Regions from separate parts of the Homo sapiens genome. Here all the other regions are linked to region 2. The links come from fine-mapping of genetic effects on gene expression. A gene starts in region 2. Each other region holds a variant in brackets. All regions are shown on one strand. Distances are from middle to middle. Region 1 overlaps ZNF48 (zinc finger protein 48). Region 2 holds the start of CD2BP2 (CD2 cytoplasmic tail binding protein 2). Region 3 overlaps ZNF771 (zinc finger protein 771).

Region 1 (7,905 bases), 48 kb before region 2:
ACTCCCAAGCACCTGGAGCCGCCCCAGCCCGGCGTTCAAGGTCCTTGCCGCCGAGTTCCAACCTAACCTCGCGGCCCGTCTCCTGGGGCCGGCTTGGAGGTCTCCGCTGCGCCCAGTGCCTCTGCTCCGCCCGAAATAGGCCACGTGCGCTCCCGCCCCGGCCTGGGCCTCTCCCTGGCGCCCCGCCTGGAGGGCGGACCCTGTTGCCTCCTCACTTCTTCCATTCCCTCTTTATCTCCTCTGCCGTCTTTTCTCCATCTTTCTCGGCTTCGCCTATTCCGCTGGCCTCTGGGATATCCTTGAATACATCCTAACCAATTCAACATCCACCCAAGCTACCGCTGTCGCGTCATGCGTGGGGTGCTTACCATGCGCCAGCGCTGTTCAGCGTCTTACATACCTGGTCTCATTTGATCCGCATAACGATGGGTCCTGATCCATTTTACAGATGAGCTCACTGAAGTTCAGGGAGGTAAACTGATTTGCCTAAGTTACACGATAAGGATGTCATAGCATCCCTGACAATCAGTAGCCTAGGTGAACAACAGCCCAAAGCTAAATCCAGTCCACAGGGGTACCTTGTTTGGCCCTTAGGGTATTTTTACTTTTAAAAAATCTTTTCGGACGGGCACGGCGGCTCACGCCTGTAATCCCAGCACTTTAGGAGGCCGAGGCGGGCGGATCACGAGGTCAGGAGATAGAGACCATCCTGGCTAACACGGTGAAACCCCGACTCTACTAAACAAAATACAAAAAATTAGCTGGGCGTGGTGGCGGGCACCTGTAGTGCCAGCTACTCGGGAGGCTGAGACAGGAGAATGGCGTGAACCCGGGAGGCGAGCTTGCAGTTAGCCGAGATCGCGCCACTGCGCTCCAGCCTGGGCGACAGAGCGAGACTCCGTCTCAAAAAAAAAAAAAAAAAAAAAAAAAAAAAATCGTTTCAAAGCCGGGCGCGGTGGCTCATGCCTGTAATCCCAGCACTTTGGGAGGCGGAGGCCGGTGGATCACTTGAGGTCAGGATTTCGAGACCAGCCTAACCAACATGGTGAAACCCCGTCTCTACTAAAAATACAAAAATTAGCCAAGCTTGGTGGTGCATGCCTGTAATCCCAGCTACTCGAGAGGCTGAGGCACGAGAATTGCTTGAACTGGGGAGGCAGTGGTTGCAGTGAGCCGAGATCATGCCATTGGTCTCCAGCCTAGGCAACAAGAGCGAAACTCCGTCTCAAGAAAAAAAAAATTAAATTGGGATATTTCATATAAAAATAGATTTTTTTTTAGTGGAATAAACAAATGCCACTTCCTTTGAAAAACAGCCACTTCCCTTGAAAAAGCAGATATCTAATTTTCCCATTTTATGAATGGGGCAACTAAGATTCAGAAATCATGAAGGAAAACAGAAATAACATTCAGTAAGTGCTTACAAGTTCTATGTTGTCTCTTTACAACAGCCCTGTTGGGATCAATAATATCTCCATTGGACAAAAGAAGAAACGGAAGCTTAGACAAGTTAAGTAATTTGCTCAAAGTCACACAGCTGGCAAGCAGCAGATTCAAAGCTTGTGCTCTTCTATTGCACCAAATTACCTCTCAGGAATGAAGTTATAAAACTGGCTCTTTCCCAGAGCTGGGAGAAGGGGTCAAATGCCTGGATACTCACACACAGGATCCCCAAAAGCCACTTTGCATTCATTCTCTGAGTTTTTTTTTTTTTTTTTTTTTTTTTTTGAGATGGAGTCTTGCTCTGTCGCCCAGGTTGGAGTGCAATAGCACAGTCTAGGCTCACTGCAACCTCCGCTTCCCAGGTTCAAGTGATTCTCCTGCCTCAGCCTCCCAAGTAGCTAGGATTACAGGCACACACCACCACACCGGGCTATTTTTGTATTTTTTGTAGAGACGGGGTTTCACCATCTTGGCCAGGCTGGTCTCAAACCCCTGACCTCGTGATCCACCCACCTTGGCCTCCCAAAGTGCTGGAATTACAGGCTTGAGCCACCACGCCTGGCCTCTCTGGGTATTTATTGAGTCCTATATACCCGTCACCCTTCTAGGTATGGGGGATGTAGTAGTGAACAAAACAGATAAAAATAGTGGCTCTTGTGACACTACTAAGGGTGCAAACAAATGTACACATGTAAAGAGGAAGATAATATCAGATAATGATAGGTGCAACGGGGCAAATCTGACAAGATGATCCAACAGGGAGCAGCTATGGTAACAGGGGCTTCTTTAATGCAGGCAGGGAAGGTGTCTCAGGATACAATTTTTTTTTTTTTTTTGAGATGGAGTCTCATTCTATCACCCAGGCTGGAGTGCAGTGGCATGATCTCAGCTCACTGCAACCTCCACCTCCCGGGTTCAAGGGATTCTCCTGCCTCAGCCTCCCGAGTAGCTGAGATTACAGGTGCGCGCCATACACTCAGCTAATTTTTTTTTTTTTTTGAGGCGGAGTCTTGCTCCGTCTCCCAGGCTGGAGTGCAGTGGTGCGATCTCGGCTCACCGCAAGCTCTGCCTCCCAGGTTCACACCATTCTCCTGCCTCAGCCTCCCAAGTAGCTGGGACTATAGGCGCCCACCACCACGCCCAGCTAATTTTTTTTGTATTTTTAGTAGAGACAGGGTTTCACCGTGTTAGCCAGGCTGGTCTTGAACTCCTGACCTCAAGTGATCTGCCTGCCTTGGCCTCCCAAAGTGCTGGGATTACAGGAATGAGCCACCATGCCCAGCCTGGATACAATATTTTGTTTGTTTGTTTGAGACAGAGTCTCCAGCTGTCGCCCTGGCTGGTGGACAGTGGCGCAATCTTGGCTCACTGCAACCTCTGCCTCCCGGGTTCAATTCTCCTGCCTCAGCCTCCCGAGTAGCTATGATTACAGGTGCCTGCCACCATGCCTGGCTAATTTTTTGTATTTTCAGTAGAGAAGGGGGTTTCACTATGTGAGCCAGGCTGGTCTCGAACTCCTGACCTCAAGTGATCCACCTGCTTCGGCCTCCCAAACTGCTGAGATTATAGGCGTGAGCCACCGCGCCCGGCCTGGATACAATATTTGAGATGAACCTTGAATGATGAGAAAGGGTTAGCCATTTGAAAATCTGGAAGAAGAGTGTTTGAGACTGAACTGCAGAGGCCTTGAGGCAGAAGCTTGTGTGTTTGA[G/A]GAATAGGAAGAAGACTTGTGTTGCTGGATCTGAGCATCCAAGGGAGTGAACAAGGGGAAATGTAGCAAGGGAGATGGAGGAGAGGTAGGCAGAGGGTAAACTTGGCCAGAACCCAACCTCTAGCGAAAGCAAAGCATCTCGCTCTGATTAAGAGAGAATCAGTGAGGAGACTCAGCCAGGAGCCTGTCTCTGGCAGTGAAAGTCCCTACTGGAAGGAGCCTCCTGCTGTTTTAAATAGGAACTTGGAAAAAGAAGGTAAAGGGCTCCATCGATTTGCCCTGCAACCATGTACAGGTATCTACTTGCAATACGATCTAGTTCATGTTCTTGAGGATCTCATAGTCTAGTAAAGAAGTTTTTGGGCCATGCGCGGTGGTCACACCTATAATCGCAGCACTTTGGGAGGCTGAGGCAGGTGGATCACCTGAGGTCAGGAGTTCGAGACCAGCCTGGCCAACACCCCATCTCTACTAAAAATACAAAAATTAGCCTAGTGTGGTAGCGCATGTCTATAGTCCCAGCTACTTGGGAGGCTGAGGCAGGAGAATTGCTTAAACTCTGTCTCAAAAAAAAAAAAAAATAAGTTTTTGGGGCCAGGAGCAATGGCCCATACCTGTAATACCAACACTTTGGGAGTCCAAAGTGGGTAGTCGCTTGAGGTCAGGAGTTCAAGACCAGTCTGGCCAACATGGCGAAACCCTGTCTTTACTAAAAATACAAAAATTAGCTGGGCATGGTGGCACACGCCTGTAATCCCAGCTATTTGGGAGGCTAAAGCATGAGAATCGCTTGAACCCAGGAGGTGGAGGTTGCAGTAAGCTGAGATCGTGCCACTGCACTCCAGCCTGGGCAACAGAGCAAGACCCTGTCTTAAAAAAAAAAGAAGACGGAGAAGGAGGAAGAAGAAGAAGAAGAGGAATAGGAAGAGGAAGAAGAAGAAAAGGAGAAGAAGAAGAAGAAGAAGAAGAAGAAGAAGAAGAAGAAGAAGAAGAAGCAGCAGCAGCAGCAGCTTGTGGGCTGGGCGTGGTGGCTCTCACCTGTAATCCTAGCACCTTGGGAGGTTGAGGCAGGTGGATTGCTTGAGCTCAGGAGTTGGAGACAAGCCTGGGAAACGTGGTGAAACCCCGTCTGTACAAAAATCACCAAAAAAAAGAAAATTAGCTGAGCATAATAGTGCACGTGCCTGTAGTCCCAGATACTTGTGCGGCTGAGGCAGGAGGAGCACTTGAACCTGGGAGGTTGAGGCTGCAGTGAGCCGATATTGCATGCTGCACTCCAGCCTGGGTGACAAAGTGAGACTCTGTCTCAAAAAAAAAAAAAAAAGAAGCTTCTGATTTAAAATAGATCTCTAAATATACAGTATGAGTGATATAAGAAAAGGATAACAGGGTGTTCTAGCAGGAGAAGAGTGGGGTAAGTGAACCACTCTTTCGGGGGTATTAGGTATTTCGTGCTGGTCTCACTGAGAAGGTAACTGTGAAGGACCTTGAAAGATGAGTGGGTGTCAGGTGTGGTGACGCACACCTATGGTCCCAGCTACTTAGGAGGCTGAGGCAGGAGGACTGCTGGAGCCCAGGGGTTCAAGGCTATAGTGCACTATGTGCCTGTGAATAGCTACTGTATTCCAGCCTGGGCAATATAGTGAGAGCTCATCTGTAAAAAAAACAAGCAAACAAAAACTAAAGATGAGTGGGACTTTGCCAGATTGGCAAGGAGGCAGTAGTTTGTGGAAATATATATATATATTTTGAGACAGGGTCTCACTCCGTCCCCCAGGCTGGAGTGCAGTGTGCAGTCACAGCTCACCGCAACCTTGACTTCCCAGGCACAAGCGATCCTCCTGCCTCAAGCCTCCCGAGTAGCTGGGATTACAGTATTTTCTGGTGGTGGCGGGGGTCGTTTTTGTTTTTTGGAGACAAGATCTTGCTCTTTTGCCCAGGATGGAGTGCAGTGGCATGATCATGGCTCACTGCAGCCTCAACTTCCTGGGGCCAAGCGATCCTCCCACCTCAGCCTCCTGAGTTGCTGGGACTACAGGTGCATTCCACCTAATTTTTGTATTTTTTGTAGAGAGGTCTCACTATGTTGCCCAGGCTGGTCTCGAACTCCTGGCCTCCTGGCCTCCTGCCTCAACCTCTCAAAATGCTGGGATGACAGGCCTGAGCCACACCTGGCCTGGAAAGGCCTTTGGATCACAGAGGATTCTTTCCAGCTCATAGGTTTGCTGGACATTTCTCACCTCACTTGTAATTATTTGTTCAATGTCTATCTCCCGCATAAAAACAGGTCAGGGACTTTGTCTTGTTTATCTTTCTATCCCAGTATGCAGCACACAATAGGTGCAGCTGTTGAGTGAGTAACTATCCTCAAGAAGCTCTTCATGTGTTAGGTGCTCAGAGACGGGTTGCTCAGAGAAGGGGATTGTAACTAACCCAGACGAGGGTCAGAGTAGGCTTCTTGGAGGAAGTAGTGCTTGAGGTGTTTTGACAGAGGAGATTAACAAGGGGTGGGTAGTGGTGGAGGAGCATTCCAAGTAAAAGAAACGACATTTAAGGAGCCCAGGGCTGAAACTACACAAATGGAAGGGCTTGAGTGCCAATGAAAGTTAGGCTTTGGGGACAGCATGTGGAGATCCACTGGGGTTTCAATGGGGGAGTGACATGGCCAGATGTAATTTTAGAAAGCAGGCCAGGCACGGTGGCTCATGCCTATAAATCCTAGCACTTTGGGAGGCCGAGGCGGGCAGATCACCTAAGGTCAGGAGTTTGAGACCAGCCTGGCCAACATGGTGAAACCCCGTCTCTACTAAAAATAAAAAAATTAGCCAGGCGCGGTGGCGGACGCCTGTAATCCCAGCTACTAGGGAGGCTGAGGCAGGAGAATCGCTTGAACCCGAGCGGAGGCTGCAGTGAGCCGAAGATCCTGCCACTGCACTCCAGCCTGGGCGACAGAGTGAGTGAGACCCTGTCTTGAGAAAAAAAGAAAAAAGAAAAAGAAAGAAATCAAGAAAAGAAAGTGGCCAGGCGCGGTGGCTCACGCCTGTAATCCCAGCACTTTGGAAGGCTGAGGCGGGCGGATCACGAAGTCCGGAGTTCGAGACCAGCCTGACAAACATGGTGAAACTCCGTCTCTACTAAAAATACAAAAATTAGCCGGGCTTGGTAGCGCGCCTGTAATCCCAGCTACTCAGGAGGCTGAGGCAGGAGAATCGCTTGAACCCGGGAGGCGGAGGTTGCAGTGAGCCAAGATCGCGCCACTGCACTCCAGCCTGGGCGACAGAGCGAGACTCCGTCTCAAAAAAAAAGAAAAGAAAGTTCACTGCAGGTCGTCTTGGAGGGCACACTGGTAGGGAAGGGAGCTAGGAAAACCAGCAAGAAGGAACTTCCAGAAGCCCCAAAGGGCTCCGCTCAGGCCATCAAGAGCCCCAGCCCTGAACGCAGGGTTCTAGGGTTTTGAGAGCGCATCAATTTGGAAAGGGCGGGCGGAGCGGGAGGAGCCGCACTGCAGCCAGCCCTGGTCGGTTTCTAGGGAAGCCAGGCCAGTGCTTACGATCTCGCGAGAACCCGTCCAGGGATTCTTTCCGCACGGAGATCGGGGAGAGCCGGGGGCGGGAACTTGCGACCCTGTACTTCGTTGCCTTCATTGTTTAGCGGGGAGAACCGCCCTGGACTTCTTTTTTCTTTAATCCCTGGCCGATCAGGCCAGTGGTTGTGAAAACGCTAGGGATTGCAGACCTGCTTCCCAGGCCCCGCGGGGCGCCGGGAAATCCGGCGGGCTTTTCTGGGGGTGAAGGAGCACCGTTTGCCCTCCCTTTGGGCTGTGCAGCCGAATGACTCATTTCCCGACGCATAAAAAGGGTCTCGGGTGTCGGGTTTCCCAGGTCCCGGTGGGCGGCGCGCCGGCGTCCGGGCTTTCCACGCCGGTTCCAGACCTGTGGGCTGCCTCCCGCCGACAGCCGTCGCCATAGCAACAACGCCCCCCACACGCCCCCTCTTCCTCCTCCTTGCTGCCTTGTCTCTGCAGCGCCGCGCGGTTTTCCTTTTAAGGGTCGCGCTGGATGCTGTGGCGTAGGTGGTGCCTGCGGGCAGCCAGACCTCAGGCCTGGGGCATCGGCTGATGGAGCTGGCGGCCGTTTTTGAACCAGACGTCGGAGCTAGAAAGCCGCTGACTACGCCAAGACAACCTCTTTATTTAATGGGCTCAGAGAGCAAGGGAAGCACACAAAATTTACAGTCTGAGTTTTGCGCGCAGAGACCCCTCTCCACCTTTTTCATGCCTGTGTGTACACACACACTGTCCAAGCCTCAGAAGAGAAGCCGTTTATTGGTAAAAAGACACATGGAAATGTGGCTGCCAGGCCTCAGAGCATCCTGCCCTTTTCCCAAACAGCTGGCCTCTGCTATCCACCAGGACTTGGGCTTGGCATCCAGGCTGGATACCATGAGAGCACCTTCTGTCTCTGGTCTATTCTGCCAGTGTCTCCGTGTCAGGGTGGGTTGGCTCCCTCCAGGGCACAAAGGTCTGGGCTCTGTCCAAGAGTGCCCCTCCATAGGGGTGGGTACCACCATGCCACACAGCAGTATTTGCCCCATCCGGATGATCAAGATACCCCTGCCTCATCCTGTTACCTTAAATTCCAGAAGCCCCATCTCTGCAGCTCAGAAGGTAAACAAACCCTGGTTCAGGCATTGGTCTCCCAGAGCAAGGTTGGGAGGCATCAGTGGTGCAATCAGCTCACTGCAGCCTCAAA
Region 2 (7,905 bases):
TCTTCTCATGGCTTGTCCCACCTGCAGGAGGCCATTCAGCTGGACGGGGAGATCTTTTTTGCACTCCTGCGCCGGGCCTCCCCGCTGGCGCATCGCCACCTGCGGCGGCAGCGCATTGACCCTGTGCTCTACATGACGGAGTGGTTCATGTGCATCTTCGCCCGCACCCTGCCCTGGGCGTCGGTGCTGCGTGTCTGGGACATGTTTTTCTGTGAAGGTACTTCTGTGGCCCTCCAGGCCATGAGGGGCTGGGGTTTCTGTGGTGGCTACCAGGGGTTCTGTCATATTTCTGGTGGTCCATGGACAAAAGGTACTTGTTGGGTGGAGGTTTCACCATAAGCAGCTGGGGGCTGGAGAAACAGGCCTGATTTTAGTTCTGCCACCAACCCAGAGCCTGCTCTCCCTGCCAAGATCCTGAGACTGATAGCAGCTCATGTACTTTCACAGGGCCTCAGTTTCCTCATCTGAGATTGGCAGTAGATGGGGATGGGGGCTGTGAGTCTATCCTGATCAGGACAGGCTGAGATCTTGGGTCTGACCACCCCATGCTCTCTACTCTCCACCCCTGCAGGCGTTAAGATCATCTTCCGGGTGGCCCTGGTCCTGCTGCGCCACACGCTGGGCTCAGTGGAGAAGCTGCGCTCCTGCCAAGGCATGTATGAGACCATGGAGCAGCTGCGTAACCTGCCCCAGCAGTGCATGCAGGAAGACTTCCTGGTGCATGAGGTAGGCCTGTGCCCTCAACGCAGCCCCTGCCTGCCTCAGCCCGCTCCCACCCTCAGCTCCATTCTGGTACGCATTTCCTCTCTGTGCAGGTGACCAATCTGCCGGTGACAGAAGCACTGATTGAGCGGGAGAATGCAGCCCAGCTCAAGAAGTGGCGGGAAACGCGGGGGGAGCTGCAGTATCGGCCCTCACGGCGACTGCATGGGTCCCGGGCCATCCACGAGGAGCGCCGGCGGCAACAGCCACCCCTGGGCCCCTCCTCCAGCCTCCTCAGCCTCCCTGGCCTCAAGAGCCGAGGCTCCCGGGCAGCTGGAGGGGCCCCGTCCCCGCCGCCCCCCGTCCGCAGAGCCAGTGCTGGGCCTGCCCCAGGGCCTGTGGTCACTGCTGAGGGACTGCATCCATCCCTTCCCTCACCCACTGGCAATAGCACCCCCTTGGGTTCCAGCAAGGAGACCCGGAAGCAGGAGAAGGAGCGGCAGAAACAGGAGAAGGAGCGGCAGAAACAGGAGAAGGAGCGGGAGAAGGAGCGGCAGAAGCAGGAGAAAGAGCGAGAGAAGCAGGAAAAGGAGCGAGAGAAGCAGGAGAAGGAGCGGCAGAAGCAGGAGAAGAAGGCTCAAGGCCGGAAGCTTTCGCTGCGTCGAAAGGCAGATGGGCCCCCAGGCCCCCATGATGGTGGGGACAGGCCCTCAGCCGAGGCCCGGCAGGACGCTTACTTCTGACCTCTGCCCTGGGGCTGGACTGCATGGCCCCCCTCTTTCCCTCAGCCAAGAACAGGCCTGGCCCAAGGTGCCACCCCCTAGCACCTTGTCAGGCTGTCCCTTGCTGGGGAAAGTGGCTTGGTTCCCCATCTCCTCGCCAGCTGCTGATCCCTACACGGGCAGGACAGATGGGCAGCTGCAAATGAGTCTGGAGCCTCTCATCTCCCATGAGGCTCAGCTGGGGTCTCTGTCGCTCCTGCCCCAGTTCCCTCTGGGTCCCCTCCTAGGTGCTGTCCTGAATGGCCCGTTGTCATCCCAGGGGTGACTCCTGGTGATGGGAGTCAGCAGTTTCAGATTCTTACACTCCATAGCTCCCCTTACCATGAGGTGGAGCTGGCTTCCTTTTCCCTGTCTTCAGCCCTCCCTGTCTCCCCCACTTCCTGGCCAGGGCTCTCATTCTGGACCTGTGTTGTAATTGTGTACAGAGGATGGCGTTGGCCTGGGGTGGGGGTGCTCGCTTTGTCTTCTGTCCTTTGGTTCTCCTTCCATAATGCTCCTGTACCCAGTTTATTTAAGGGGACATGCACTGGAATAGGAAATGTCCCCCATCTCCCTTCCTGCACCCTGCTGTGCTCCCTCCAAACCCACCTTGCTCTGTGTTCTCAGGCCCCCCTGCTTTTGTCTCACCAGGACCCATACCTTTCACCTTGTTCCCTTCCACCCCTCCAGTTAGTCCCTATCTGGGTAAGGGTCTTCCCTTGAGCTCCAGGGGGTGGAACCCAATGTTTACATTCTCTTCTGTCTCTGCCCCCACCCCATGCAGCGCTTTGAGGAATTGGAAAAGAACCTGCTGTTGTACCTGGGCCTGTTTTCTGCCTTGTTATTTGATGAGGGGGGGATGGGGTAAGGACGAGGGAGGGAGGGACAGAGCCAGGACCTGGGTCTCTGTTGAAGCAGTCTGCTGTCTTGGCAAGTAGGTACCTCTTAGCTTTGGGTCCATCTCTCAGTCACTCATCAGACACTGGTTGAGCTCCTGCTCCATCTTTGCCTGGGATCTGCTGTCTCCATTGTCACTGGCTGCCTGGAGCTCTCTATGTACCACGTGCAGCACCCGGATCTCCTTCCCAAAGTGCTCATGCAACTCCTGGAAGCTGGAGGGGGTACTCACAGTGGCTAGAAAGCCACTGTCCTCTGGGGATGAGATGGGTTCTTGGCCAGTTGCCTGGCACAGCTCCCAGTATTGGGTTTTGGTGGGGGGGGAGGGGGGACAGCAGCCCAGCCAGCCGCCTCCAGCTCGCGCCAGCCAGTGCCCACAGCCAAGTCTCCAGCTCTTCCTGGGTTTCTGCAGCCAGCTTGTAGGCCCGCCCACCTGTGCCCTCCACCCCAGGGGTCAGGATGGTAAAGGCATAGGGTTCTGCAGCCTTAAGGTGTGGTTCCACCTGGCAGTTCTCTAACAGGATGAGGCTCAGGGGTGCATGGTCGGTCTAGTGTTCTAGGTAGAAGAGGAGGTTTCCTCGGAGGATGAACCATCGGCGCTGGTAGCTGAGGTTTCGGGTCCCCTTCTTTAGCAGAATGCCTTCCTGGTCTGGGGCCTGTGTTCTGTAACCATGGAAGAAACTGAGCACGGACTTTCTGTGCAGTTTTCATCGTGATCCAATATGGGAGGAAACCCCTAGGGAGAGAGAAGTGGCCCATCTAGTTGCCTGGGGGAAGAGTAGGGGAACTCTCATGCTGTCCTCGTCTGGCTTCAGCACGTGCTGCCTGCGCACAGTCTTGGCTTAGGGGGATGCAGGCTCCGAGTGTCAAGAGCTAGGGGTCCCAGCACAGGGGCTGATCCCCGCTACCTCCCCAATTCCCCCTTCTGCTTGGGCCACATTCCGCTACCTGGGCAGGAGTTGCTAGGCCCTGTTTGCTCAGGGGGGCTTCATGCTGCAGAGAGGCACTGTTGCCCTTTTCCAGGCCTACCTGAGAGCAGGGCACAAGGGGCTTCTGGCCTGAGTACTGGCGCCAATGCCACCTCTCCAGTGATGGCTCTCCCACCTCAGAAACCAGGAACTCGCCCAGGGTATGGGCGTGGGACAAATTATTTCCCCTGGGTCCTAAAGGGAGGTGTGTTCAGAAAGTGCCCGGAGAGCCGTCCAGGGGCCCCAGGCTGGCCATCGGGAGAGTCAGGCTTCCCCTCGGAGAGGCAAGGCTGCACCTCTCAGGCTAGGAGGGCTGACCACTGGACCATAGGAATGGGAAGGCAGGATTTCTAACGAGACGGTAGGGGCGCTGAGCCCTTAGCCCTGGGGGAAGGGTGACTTGAACCCAGGACAGGAAAACGGAGCAGCAACCCACTGACCCTGCTCGGACTTTGCCCCTCCATCCTGACCCTGGGCGGCCCTTTAAGCAGATGCGCTCCAGTTTTTCTCCAGAGCCTCTACTGCTTGAATGACGGACTCGAAGCTACTTCCGGCCATTTCTCACGCCCAGTCAGAGTCCAGGAATTCTTAGGTTCCCTCTTCTCACCATTGTCCTCCCACGTGACTGACGTCACTTCTGGCGGGAGAGAGGGTGGAGGCGTCTTCGCTCGCTTATCGCATACTTCCGCCCGCTCTTCCAGTTAGTTCCCTAACCCGAGTGAAGCCACTTCCGGGCTTCCCGGGCGCCTTCCGCAGTCCTCTTCCGGGTGATGGCGGCCGGGTGCCCCGGATGTAGCCCTGGCGCAAGCATCTCTTCTTTTTTCCACCTCGCCTTCCGCGGATTCCCAGGTGAGTGCGCGAGGGTGGGACCGCCCGAATCCCCGTGGCCCTCTAAGTTGTACACAGCCCGGGACAGTTGGGGCTCACCACACGGAATTGGGAGTTCGGAGCAGGGAGGAACGGGGTGGCGAGAGCGCCAGGTCCTGGGTCTGCCGGGGCCCGGCGAGCTCCGAGAGAGCCAGGGTAGAGAGCGGGGGTCAGCCCGTGGAGCCGGTGGCGCGCAGACTGCGGGGGCTGGAGTTGGGGGCGGTCACGTGGTGAAGCCTGTCTCCTTTCAGCCAGGGTCGGGGGATCCAGAGGGTCCGCTCCTCCGTCCCCGCCCCGTTTAACTCGCGGATGCTAGACCCAAGTCCTGGAGGCCTCCTGGCTGCCAGCTTCCTTTCGGCCCCTGCTTTTGTGCTCCCTCCGCTCCCAAACTGTACCTGTCACAGACCAGGAAAAATGTTTGCTGTGCTGCGTCTGTTGGCGAGTCCCCTCCTCACCCGGTTCCCTTCCTCTGCATCCTTTCCTCAGCTTGAGAAACACCTCTTTGCCCCGTCATGCCAAAGAGGAAAGTGACCTTCCAAGGCGTGGGAGATGAGGAGGATGAGGATGAAATCATTGTCCCCAAGAAGAAGGTGAGGGGGCCAGACTGCTTTGTGTGGGGGAAAGAGGAGCTAGAAGCCTGAAGAGGAAGAAAGCTGGCGGGAGAGGGGCGGGGCGGGCAGGCAGAGAAAAGCCTAGTTTTTTCAGGTTCTCTGAGGAATGGGTTGGGAGCGTCTTTAGTGTGGCTCCTGAAATATTTGGGGAAGTAGTCGAGATCCTGAAATATTTGGGGAATATTTGGGTCCAGATCCGGAAGTATTTGGGGAGGTAGCCAGTAACCTGCATTTCTCAACTTTCTGGCTCCTGCTCACAGCTGGTGGACCCTGTGGCTGGGTCAGGGGGTCCTGGGAGCCGCTTTAAAGGCAAACACTCTTTGGATAGCGATGAGGAGGAGGATGATGATGATGGGGGGTCCAGCAAATATGACATCTTGGCCTCAGAGGATGTAGAAGGTAAGCTGTACCCAAGAATACACTCTGCTGGAAAAACAAGTAGGGGCCTCTGGTGGTGTGGAGCGAGGGAGGCTCCGGTCTCTTTTTTCCATGCCTGGAAAAGGGCACCTGTGTCTTTGGTGCAGGTCAGGAGGCAGCCACACTCCCCAGCGAGGGGGGTGTTCGGATCACACCCTTTAACCTGCAGGAGGAGATGGAGGAAGGCCACTTTGATGCCGATGGCAACTACTTCCTGAACCGGGATGCTCAGATCCGAGACAGCTGGCTGGACAACATTGACTGGGTGCGGCCCAGGGGCTGGCGTGGCTGGGGCCTGGGAGTGGCAGATGCTGGGCCTGCTCCCGTGGCAGTTGGTGGGAAATCACTCCATCTTCCCATTACAGGTGAAGATCCGGGAGCGGCCACCTGGCCAGCGCCAGGCCTCAGACTCGGAGGAGGAGGACAGCTTGGGCCAGACCTCAATGAGTGCCCAAGCCCTCTTGGAGGGACTTTTGGAGCTCCTATTGCCTAGAGAGACAGTGGCTGGGGCACTGAGGCGTCTGGGGGCCCGAGGAGGAGGCAAAGGGAGAAAGGGGCCTGGGCAACCCAGTTCCCCTCAGCGCCTGGACCGGCTCTCCGGGTTGGCCGACCAGATGGTGGCCCGGGGCAACCTTGGTGTGTACCAGGAAACAAGGGAACGGTTGGCTATGCGTCTGAAGGGTTTGGGGTGTCAGACCCTAGGACCCCACAATCCCACACCCCCACCCTCCCTGGACATGTTCGCTGAGGAGTTGGCGGAGGAGGAACTGGAGACCCCAACCCCTACCCAGAGAGGAGGTGAGCTTGGAGGACAGAGGAGGGGGCAGTGGGTAGGAAGTGAGACACTGGAGGCCAAATGGCTTTGCCTGTTATTTTAGAAGCAGAGTCGCGGGGAGATGGTCTGGTGGATGTGATGTGGGAATATAAGTGGGAGAACACGGGGGATGCCGAGCTGTATGGGCCCTTCACCAGCGCCCAGATGCAGGTGAGCTGCTTTCTCCCTCCTCCTGCCTTGTCCCTGCTTCCCCCACTCCTGTCAGTTGTTCCCCAGCTCTGCCCTCTCCTTGCAGACCTGGGTGAGTGAAGGCTACTTCCCGGACGGTGTTTATTGCCGGAAGCTGGACCCCCCTGGTGGTCAGTTCTACAACTCCAAACGCATTGACTTTGACCTCTACACCTGAGCCTGCTGGGGGCCCAGTTTGGTGGGCCCTTCTTTCCTGGACTTTGTGGAGGAGGCACCAAGTGTCTCAGGCAGCGAGGAAATTGGAGGCCATTTTTCAGTCAATTTCCCTTTCCCAATAAAAGCCTTTAGTTGTGTACTGGGGCCTTGGCTGTGCTGATGGCCAGAAGCCAGGGGCCTTCTCCACAGTCCCTTTGGACTTGTCTTGGTCCCTGAGTACTCCCATGAAGATCCTTCTTGGAGGTGCCTGTCAGGTATCCTGTGGCCTCCCTGCCTGGACTCTGCTTGCCGTGTAAACACCCCCAACTGCGCTGCTCTGTGCTCCTCTCCCAGGTTTCTTGTTCGATTCCTCTTAGGTCTTTGGCTTTCAGGACCTCAGATTCTTTATCCTTGTAGCCACCAGAGGACAGAGCCCCAGAAGTGGATGTTTTAGGCCCAGAAGGACCAGGGCATCGAGAAGACATTGGGACCCTGTTGGGGGTGAGCATGGAACCCTCTTACTCTCGCTTCACCCTCTCAAGCTCCTTAGATGCTGGGCAGAAGTGGGATGAGTGGCCCAAGACCGAGATCCCTAAGGTTCTGAGAGCCAGTGTCTTCCCTAATCTGGCTTTCCTCTATCCTTGCCGTCGTTCCCACAGCCCTTCAGTGAAGTGCAAACTCAGTGGCCAAGTGTGGGCCAAGTGTGCATTGTACTGGCACAGAGAGGGGCAGTGACTCACTGGAGATCACAGGAATCAAAGGGCTGGCCCAGACCCAGTGGGCTCCTTTCCCAGACCTTTCTTGGCACAAAGCCTTTGCTGCCTGGCCTTGGAGGCCCTGCGGCCTACATTCTCTGGACCCCACTATGTGCCTGGCACAGGGCTAGTGCCTTGAGGAAACTGAGGTAGCTGGGTTGGTCCCCTTCCAGGAATTCAGAGTCTGGTGGCAGGGGCATGGGAAATAGACAGATGTAATTCTATAGCCTGGGCCTGGCACCCTCCACCTCCACGCCCCACCAGCATTGCCTTACGCCTCCCTTGCCCCACGTTAGATGGTTTCTTCCGGTTTTGCACTCTGGCTGCCCCTTGGAGTCTCCTGGGGAGCTGTAATATCTCTTTGGAGATTCAGATTGAGCTGGTCTAGGTTGTGGCCCAGGCATTGGGCATTTTGGAAGCCCCCAGGTGTTTTCAGCTTGCAGCCAGGCCGAGAGAGAGCCCCTGAGTCAGATCCCCATGGTTTAGGCACACCTAGCGGGAGGGGTGGCTCCTGGACCCCACCGTGGTTGGAGAGCTGAGCATGTGTGTGGCTTTAGTGGGGTCTGTTAGTTATGGGGGTCTGGGCACTGGAGCTGCAGGACACTTGGGATCCCAGGTCAGAAAGGGCCAGATGAGCAACTAGGAAAGACTTGGGGGCCAGGGCGGAGTGGGGTCACCTGACACTCTTGTGAGGCCCCTTCTAGTGCCTGCTCACACCGGAATTTCATTCACTCCAAGAAGCCATCAGGGGTAAGATACCTTCCTTTA
Region 3 (7,905 bases), 57 kb before region 2:
GATATGAGGTGTGAAGAAAAAGAGATCAAAATGACTTCAAGGTTTTTGAGCTTAGCAACTGCAAAGGTGGAGTTGCCATTTACAGAGATGAGGACGGTGGGAGGAGCAAGTTGAGAGGGGAGATCTGTTTTGGATGGTGTCACGGCTTCTTGACATATCTGGAGCTCAGAAGCGAGGCCTAGACTGGAGATGTTAATTGAGAAGCTGTCAACCTATAGATGGTTTATAAAGCCTTGAGAATGAGTGGATGAGATCATCCAGGGGATGGGCAGACAGAACCTAGGGCAGCAAGATGGGGAGAAGCCAGGGAGGGAGGAGAGCAGGAGAGGGGCATCCTGGAAGCCAGGCCAGGACCAAGTCCAGGCTCTTAATCAGCTTTGAATAGCAAACACCTATCATTTTTTAAGCAGTGAAGAAAAAGGCAAGGGTAAAAGCCAAATGTTATTCTGAGGTCTGAAATGAAACAATCTGAAAATGAGCCAGTTTCACAAGCTCTGGCCTTTTAGAGATAAAAATCAGAAAAAGGAAAGAAATGCCTTCTAAGAGGCACATGAAGGGAAAACATTCTGGACTAACAGTGAAGAGTATTGAGGGCATATTGCTCCCTTCCTAGAAAAGAGAACGCTCAAAACCCCAGCAAAACTGATGTCGCGTATCTACTGTGGCCAAGCAATTAATTCATGACCAAATGAAGTGCCTGGGGCATATTAAGGACAAGACAGTGTCAGCTTCTCCCATATTCGATCTCCACGAGGTAATTATCATCATCCCTATTTTACAGATGGGGAGACAGGTGAAGAGAGAGGGACAGCAAGGCCAGGTGCAGTGGCTCACGCCTGTAATACCAGCACTTTGGGAGGCCGAGGCAGGTGGATCACGAGGTCAGGAGTTCAAGCCCAGCCTAGCCAAGATGTTGAAACCCCGTCTCTACTACAAATACAAAAATTAGCTGGGCGTGGTGGCGGACGCCTGTAATCCCAGCTACTCGGGAGGCTGAGGCAGGGAACTGCTTGAACCCGGGAGGTGGAGGTTGCAGTGAGCCAAGATTGCACCACTGCCTCCAGCCTAGGTGACGGCAAGACTCCGTCTCAAAAAAAAAAAAAAAAAAAAAAGGGTGACAGCAGAAAATAGTAGGGCCTTCTGTTTCTGAAGCTGCAGGAGGGCAACTTCAAGGCCTTCAAGATAGTTTGTCAAAAGGTAGTGGCTTTGTGGTAACCAACTCAGAAATTAGAAAATAAGCCAGGCGTGGTGGTTCACACCTGTAATCCCAGTACTTTGGGAGATCGAGGTGGGCGGATCACTTGAGGTCAGGAGTTCAAGACCAGCCTGGCCAACATGGTGAAACCCTGTCTCTACTAAAAATACAAAAATCAGCTGGATGTGGTGGCTCATGCCTGTAATCCCACCTACTCAGGAGGCTGAGGCAGGAGAATCACTTGAACCCGGGAGGCAGAGGTTGCAGTGAGCTGAGATCATGCCACTGCACTCCAGCCTGGGGAACAGAGTGAGATTCCATCTCAAAAAAAAAAAAAAAAAAAAAAAAAAAAAGAGGCCGGGCGCGGTGGCTCACGCCTGTAATCCCAGCACTTTGGGAGGCTGAGGTGGGCAGATCACAAGGTCAGGAGATCGAGACCATCCTGGCTAACATGGTGAAACCCCATCTCTACTAAAAAAATACAAAAAATTAGCCAGGCGTGGTGGCAGGTGCCTGTAGTCCCAGCTACGCGGGAGGCTGAGGCAGGAGAATGACATGAACCCGGGAGGCGGAGCTTGCAGTGAGCGGAGATGCGCCACTGCACTCCAGCCTGGGCAACAGAGCGAGACTCCGTTGAAAAAAAAAAATTAGAAAACAGGGCAATTTAGAAAATTAGTGACCAAGAGAAATCTGGTTTAAATAGTATCTATACTGATAACAATAGCAACAATCAATAACAAAGTATTAAGCTTTGACAACACTATGTATGTTATTGTATTAAATCCTCCTGTCACCCGCCTTGAGCTGGGTGTTCTCTCTTTTGATAGCTGAGAAAGCTGAGGCTGAGGGCGATGAAATTCACATGGCCAGTGGGAGCCAGGATGGACTCAGGGTGCCCATGAGACCATGCCGTCATTCAGGCTACACTGTTCTGAACTCACGTGACCAAGATGTGACAGAGGCTGGATTCCACGTCCCTGGCACACTCCAAGAGGGATTCAAGGTTAAAATACAACTTGATACTTTAAATGGAGAAACTCCCCACAGTATGTTTGGTACCATCTGAATTCAAGGTCACATTTTCCAGTCTTGCCCTGGTTTTGAAATCTATTGGTTTATTTCAATACATCAGCCACTGTGGAGAGAACTTGTCTCATCAGATCTACATTTTTCTGGCCCGTTTTTCCTTGGCACCCTCTTTCAGGTGACTTTGGACAGCCTGAGGGCTTCCTCATGCTGAGTTCACTGACTTCTGAAAAAGAAATTCTCCATACAAGCACTGTTGATGTCTCCAGCCCAGGAGAAGGGGCCTTGGATGCCCGAGGAAAAATCTTGGTAAGAGGAGCTGAATCCAGCTCATTAAGATCCTCCTCTGCCCCAGTGTCCCGAGAAAGGCCAGGTAGGCTAAGTGAGATCAAATTCCCAGTATGAGGCCAGGTGCAGTGACTCACACCTGTAATCTTAGCACTTCGGGAGGCCAAGGAAGGAGGATTACTTGAGGCCAGGAGTTGGACACCAGCCTGGGCAACACAGTTAGACCTCGTCTCTACAAAAAGTGAAAAATTAGCCAGGTGTGGTGGGGTGCACTTGTAGTCCCAACAACTTGGTAGGCCGAGGAAGGAGGATCACTTGAGCCCAAGAGTTCAAGGCTGCAGTGAGCTACAATCACGTGCCACTGCACTCCAGCCTGGGTGACAAAGCGAGATCGTGTCTCTAAAAAAAGAAAAAAAAACCCAAAATTTCCCAGCATGAGGTATAAGGTGGTATGTGGGCAAACTTTAAAAAAGTCTCATAATTGTTACACATTTATTTTCACGAATATTTAAAAAACAAGATATCACATGAAACCCACAATTTCATCAGTACTATTGTTTAGATGAAGGTACATTTATTTAACAAAACAATGTGAATCTATTTGAAGAAAAACATTAATAAATAATGTGAGTACAACATATGAGCAATACACATGTGACTGAAACTTGGCAAATACCAGACTAGGTGATCATTAATGGCCCAAGCATGTCTTAAATTCTACAACTATTAGATTTAAAAATTAGAATAAATGGTATTTGCACTATAACAGGAGGCTACTGTGAACATACAATGTAGTGTAATAATATAATAATCCAGGTATTAGAAGTTAGTGATTTTTGTTTTCCTGCTTAAATGTTTTTTAACCAGAGCAAACATCCCAGTTTCTTCCTTAGCCATTACTTCTCTAATTAATAAAATAACTCCCACTTGTTGGGCACTCACCATGTGCCAGGAACTGTGCTAAGTGCTTTTTACCAGTACTGTCTTTCTAAATTCTCGCCATGGCTTTCGTTAGGTACCTTAGCCCTGTTTTATATATAAGGAAATAAGACTCAGAAGTTAAGTGACTACACAAGGCAAGGCTATTCAGCTAATAAATGGCAGAGCCAGGGTTTGAACTGAATTTACTCATTTTCCAGAACACCTATTCTCTTAACCATGATGCAATTCTTTTTTTATTCTCTTTTTTTTTTTTGAGAAAAGGTCTCACTGTGTCACCCAGGCTGGATGCAGTGGCATGATCACGGCTCACTGCAGCCTTGACTTCCCGGGCTAAAGCAATCCTCCTGACTCAACCCCCCAAATAGCTGGCGCTACAGGGGTGTGCCACCACACCCGGCTAATTTTTGTATTTCAGTAGAGATGGGGTTTTGCCATGTTGCCCAGGCTGGTCTCGAACTCCTGAGCTCAATCAATCCTCCTGCCTCA[G/A]CCTCCAAAAGTGCTGGGATTACAGGCAAGAGCCATCACGCCCAGCCTCCATGATGCAATTCTAATCTCACTGACTAGAGTTTGAGGCCACTTACACAGCTTGTCTCCCTCCCCTGGCCCCTTTTTGCGGTCACAGTCTTCCTTCATTTTGGCACAAACTATTAAACACAACCACTGTCTTCTAGTTCCTTGCTGGAGGATGTGTGGTCCACAGACCAGCAACATCAACATCACTGGGAACTTTTTACAAATGCAGAATCTCAAATCCCACTCCAGATTTTACTGAATTAAAATCCTCATTTTAACAAGACCCCTGGGTGATCTGTATGCATGTTAAAAATTAAGAAACTGATCTAGATGAGAAAAGAGCTACTCCTGGAGAAAGCAGGGAGCAAAGGTGAAGAGGGCTTTGCGGGCTGAGACCACAAGGGGGGATGGGATAGGTGTCGAGGGGATGAAGCCAGAATGGCATGAGGTCAGATGGTAAAGAGCTTTGAATGCCAAGTTTAGGAGCTGAGACCTCACCCTGAGGGAAACAGAAAACCACTCAAGGGTTCAAGCCAGGGAAAGATAGGTTTGGATGTGCATGGAGCCCTCAGAAAATCTTTCTAAAAGATAGATTGGGTTTTGATGGCAGAGGGAGAATACTCCAGCCCCTGCATGCAGCGTAATTAAGGCCCTTCTGGACAGTGACTGGCCACAGGACTGGCAATAGCTAGGACTCACTGAATGTCACCACTGGAAGGTGTTTTCGAGGTCACCATTTCATAGATGGAGAAATGAGGCTCAGGAAGGCCCACAGCAAGCTAACGATCGAGCACCCTTCTGGGCACGATGCTAACAGTTCATGGGATATGTGTGCATAATCCTCAATTCCACCCATCTCCTCCAAATCTAGTCACCTTGATGACACTTCTCAGACTGGCATTCAGGGGTCTTACTCTATTACCCCATTTTACAGATGAGAAAGCCAAAGAAAAGCTGGTAAACGGTGGAGTTACGACCGCTACATGATACCATTCACAATCTGGCCCTGTGTGCCTTTCATGACTAGCCATGTCAGACCTTCACCGCACATACCCCTTGGCTCTAGCCAGGTTCCTAAATGGCCCCTTTTCCTCATCATTGCTGTTACTACCTTAGAGCAGGCCCTACCTGGCCTGGGCTCCCTGTAGCAGCCAATAATTCTTCTAAACAGAAAATCCAATCATGTCCCTCCTCTGATTTTTTTTTTTTTTTGAGATGGAATCTTGCTCTGTTGCCCAGGCTGGAGTGCAGCGGTGCAATCTCAGCTCACTGCAACCTCCGCCTCCCAGATTCAAGCGATTCTCCTGCCTCAGCCTCCCAAGTAGCTGGGATTGCAAGCAGGTGCCACCACACCCGGCTAATTTTTGTATTTTTAGTAGAGATGGGGTTTCACCATGTTGGCAAGGCTGGTCTCGAACTCCTGACCTCAAGTGATCCGCCCGCCTCAGCCTCCCAAAGTGCTGGGATTACAGGCATGAGCCACCACGCCTGGCCTGTTTTTGTTTTTTGAGACAGGGTCTCTCTCTGTTGCCCAGGCTGGAGTACAGTGGTGCAGTCATGGCTCACTGCAGCCTTGAACTCCTGGGATCATTCAGCCTCCAGAGTAGCTAGGACTACAGGCATGCCACCATGCCCAGCTAATTAAACTTTTTTTTTTTTTTTTTTTTTTTTTTTGTAGAGATGAGGTCTCCCTATGTTGCCCAGGGAGGAATCGAACTCCTGGGCTCAAGTGATCCTCCCACCTTGGCTTTCCAAAGTGCTAGGATTACAGGTGTGAGCCACCACGCCTGGCTCTTCCCATGATTTAAGGCTTCTTATGGTGCCACAGAACCTAACACAGTACGTCCTGCCCTAGCTTGCAAGGCCCCTCTGTCCCCCAACTGCCTTTCCAGTCTCATTTCCTCTGAGTCTTTGTTTTTGCTGTTTCCTCCTCCTGGAATGCCCTTCCTCCTCCTCCATGTGCCAAACCCCTGCAAAGCCTTCAAGGCCCAAGTCAAAAATCATCTCCTCTGGGAAGCCTTCCCCACTGCCTTGAGTCGTTTGTCTTCAATCCTCTGTGCCCCCACATTCACTTCCCTGATCAACCCCAGTTCTCATGGTTCAGCCCAGGCCTTTGATAAAAATGAGTTGAGCCAGGCGTGGTGGCTCACGCCTGTAATCCCAACACTTTGGGAGGCCGAGGCGGGCGGATCATGAGGTCAGGAGTTCGAGACCAGCCTGACCAATATGGTGAAACCCCACCTCTACTAAAAATACAAAAATTAGCTGGGCATGGTAGTGCGCACCTATAATCCCAGCTACTCAGGAGACTGAGGCAGGAGAATGGCATGAACCCGGTAGGTGGAGGTGCGGTGAACCAAGATTGCGCCACTGCACTCCAGCCTGGGCGACATAGTGAGACTCCGTCTCAAAAAAAAAAAAAAAAGTTGAAAAATCTCAAGAAGGATGACCTTGCCCAAGGTCCTGAGCTTTGGGGAGAAGAATAAATGTAACAGCAACTATTTCCGTGTTTATTTTGTGCCAGACACAGTTCTAACTCTGTGCATGTGTTGACTCATTCATTCCTCACAACTCCAAGATGTAGGTGCTGTTATAATTTCCCTTTTACAAATGAGGAAACTGAGGCGTGGAGCGGTTAGGAAACTTGGCCAAGGTCACACAGCGGGTAAATGATGGAGCTGGAAGTCCACCCTAAGCTCTGGAGCCTGTGTTTGTAACTTAGAGGCCAAAGGTGGAGATCAGGCAATCGCAGGGCCAGAAGAGGCAGGCAGAGCTGGATAATGGGCGAAGGGGGCCCGCAACAAACACAACCAGATAGTTATTAGACTATCCAGAGGCCTAAGGAGCTAGTCCCCTCCCCCAGCACCCAGCAGGCCCACTAGGGGGCAGCAGAGCATTCTTTCCCTGGGAACTGGCTCCTGGGCAGGAAGAATCAGAGTCCCGGCCCCTGCAAGCTGGGTCCCTGGGGCCAAAGCCCTCTGCTGGTACTCAGGGCTGCTCAGGCTGGGGGCAGACAGAATCCTCTGGGGTTCTGAGAAGCGGAAACGTATCTGGTGGCAGTTAGGGTCTCCAGGGGGTGAAATTTAACTCATATTCTGATCTCAAAACCTTCAAATACCCTCAGAATAAAAGCCAGACTCCCTGTGTGGCCTGCCAACCACCCCCACTCATCCACACTACAGCATGACCGAACCACCCACCCTCACTGCTGCAGTGCACTACTCACTCGTCTGAGCCTCTATAAGGGCCATTTCTGGCTGGATACGGTGGCTCACACCTATAATCCCAGCACTTTGGGAGGCTGAGGTGGGAGGATCACCTGAACTCAGGAGTTTGAGACCAGTCTGGCCAACATGGCAAAACCCCAACTCTACTGAAAATACAAAAAATTAGCCGGGCGTGGTGGTGCATGCCTGTAATCCCAGCTTCTTGGGAGGCTGAGGTAGGAGAACCACTTGAACCCGGGAGGTGGAGGCTGCAGTGAGCCGAGATCACGCCACTGCACTCCAGCCTGGGCAACAGAGCGAAACTCTGTCTCAAAACAAAACAAAAAAAAATTAGCCAGGTGTAGTGGTGCATGCCTGTAGTCCCAGCTACTTGGGAGGCTGAGGTGGGAGGATCACCTGAGCCCAGGGAAGTCAAGGCTGCAGTGAGCTGTACTGCACTACAGCTTGGGTGACTGAATGAGACCCTGTCTCAAACAATAACAACAGTAATAATAAAAGAGCCATTTCCTCTGACTGGGTCCATCACCCCACTTCTGACCCCAGACTCCTACTAGTCTCACATAAGCCATCCTTTTACTTTGAGACCTGTGGCCAGTTACCAAACTGCCCTGGGCCTCAGTCTCCTCATCTGTAAAATGGAATAAATGCTACCGACATCATAGAATCGAGGTGCTTAGAACAGTGCCTGGCACATAGAAAATGCTAGGCAAGGGT

The links. PIP is the estimated chance that this variant, and not a neighbour inherited with it, causes the effect.
Region 1: its variant is fine-mapped to the expression of CD2BP2 in whole blood (TOPMed, PIP 0.98).
Region 3: its variant is fine-mapped to the expression of CD2BP2 in whole blood (INTERVAL, PIP 0.99).

The regions. Positions count from the first base shown.
Region 1 is chr16:30,399,528-30,407,432 of GRCh38, reverse strand. It overlaps ZNF48 (zinc finger protein 48), which reads right to left. Exons shown (of 3, transcript NM_001214909.2): 3 at 7,325-7,905. Among named protein-coding and RNA genes, the nearest start is that of ZNF771, 4.1 kb to the left of the region's middle. RefSeq lists a silencer at 1-103. The variant G/A (reference allele first, on the strand shown) is at 3,155.
Region 2 is chr16:30,351,484-30,359,388 of GRCh38, reverse strand. It overlaps CD2BP2 (CD2 cytoplasmic tail binding protein 2), which reads left to right and starts at 4,081. Exons shown (of 7, transcript NM_006110.3): 1 at 4,081-4,177; 2 at 4,682-4,785; 3 at 5,067-5,205; 4 at 5,331-5,488; 5 at 5,589-6,021; 6 at 6,102-6,208; 7 at 6,294-7,905. The coding sequence starts at 4,708. The coding sequence ends at 6,404. TBC1D10B (TBC1 domain family member 10B) reads left to right here. Exons shown (of 9, transcript NM_015527.4): 7 at 28-217; 8 at 572-726; 9 at 816-2,287. The coding sequence ends at 1,445. CD2BP2-DT (CD2BP2 divergent transcript) reads right to left here and starts at 3,955. Exons shown (of 2, transcript NR_184233.1): 1 at 3,769-3,955; 2 at 1-3,096. RefSeq lists enhancers at 3,910-3,969, 4,050-4,109, 3,164-4,115, 3,847-4,141, 3,832-5,031 and 1 more.
Region 3 is chr16:30,408,590-30,416,494 of GRCh38, reverse strand. The region is part of intron 2 of ZNF771 (zinc finger protein 771); the gene reads right to left. Among named protein-coding and RNA genes, the nearest start is that of ZNF771, 4.9 kb to the right of the region's middle. RefSeq lists a silencer at 6,830-6,919. The variant G/A (reference allele first, on the strand shown) is at 3,938.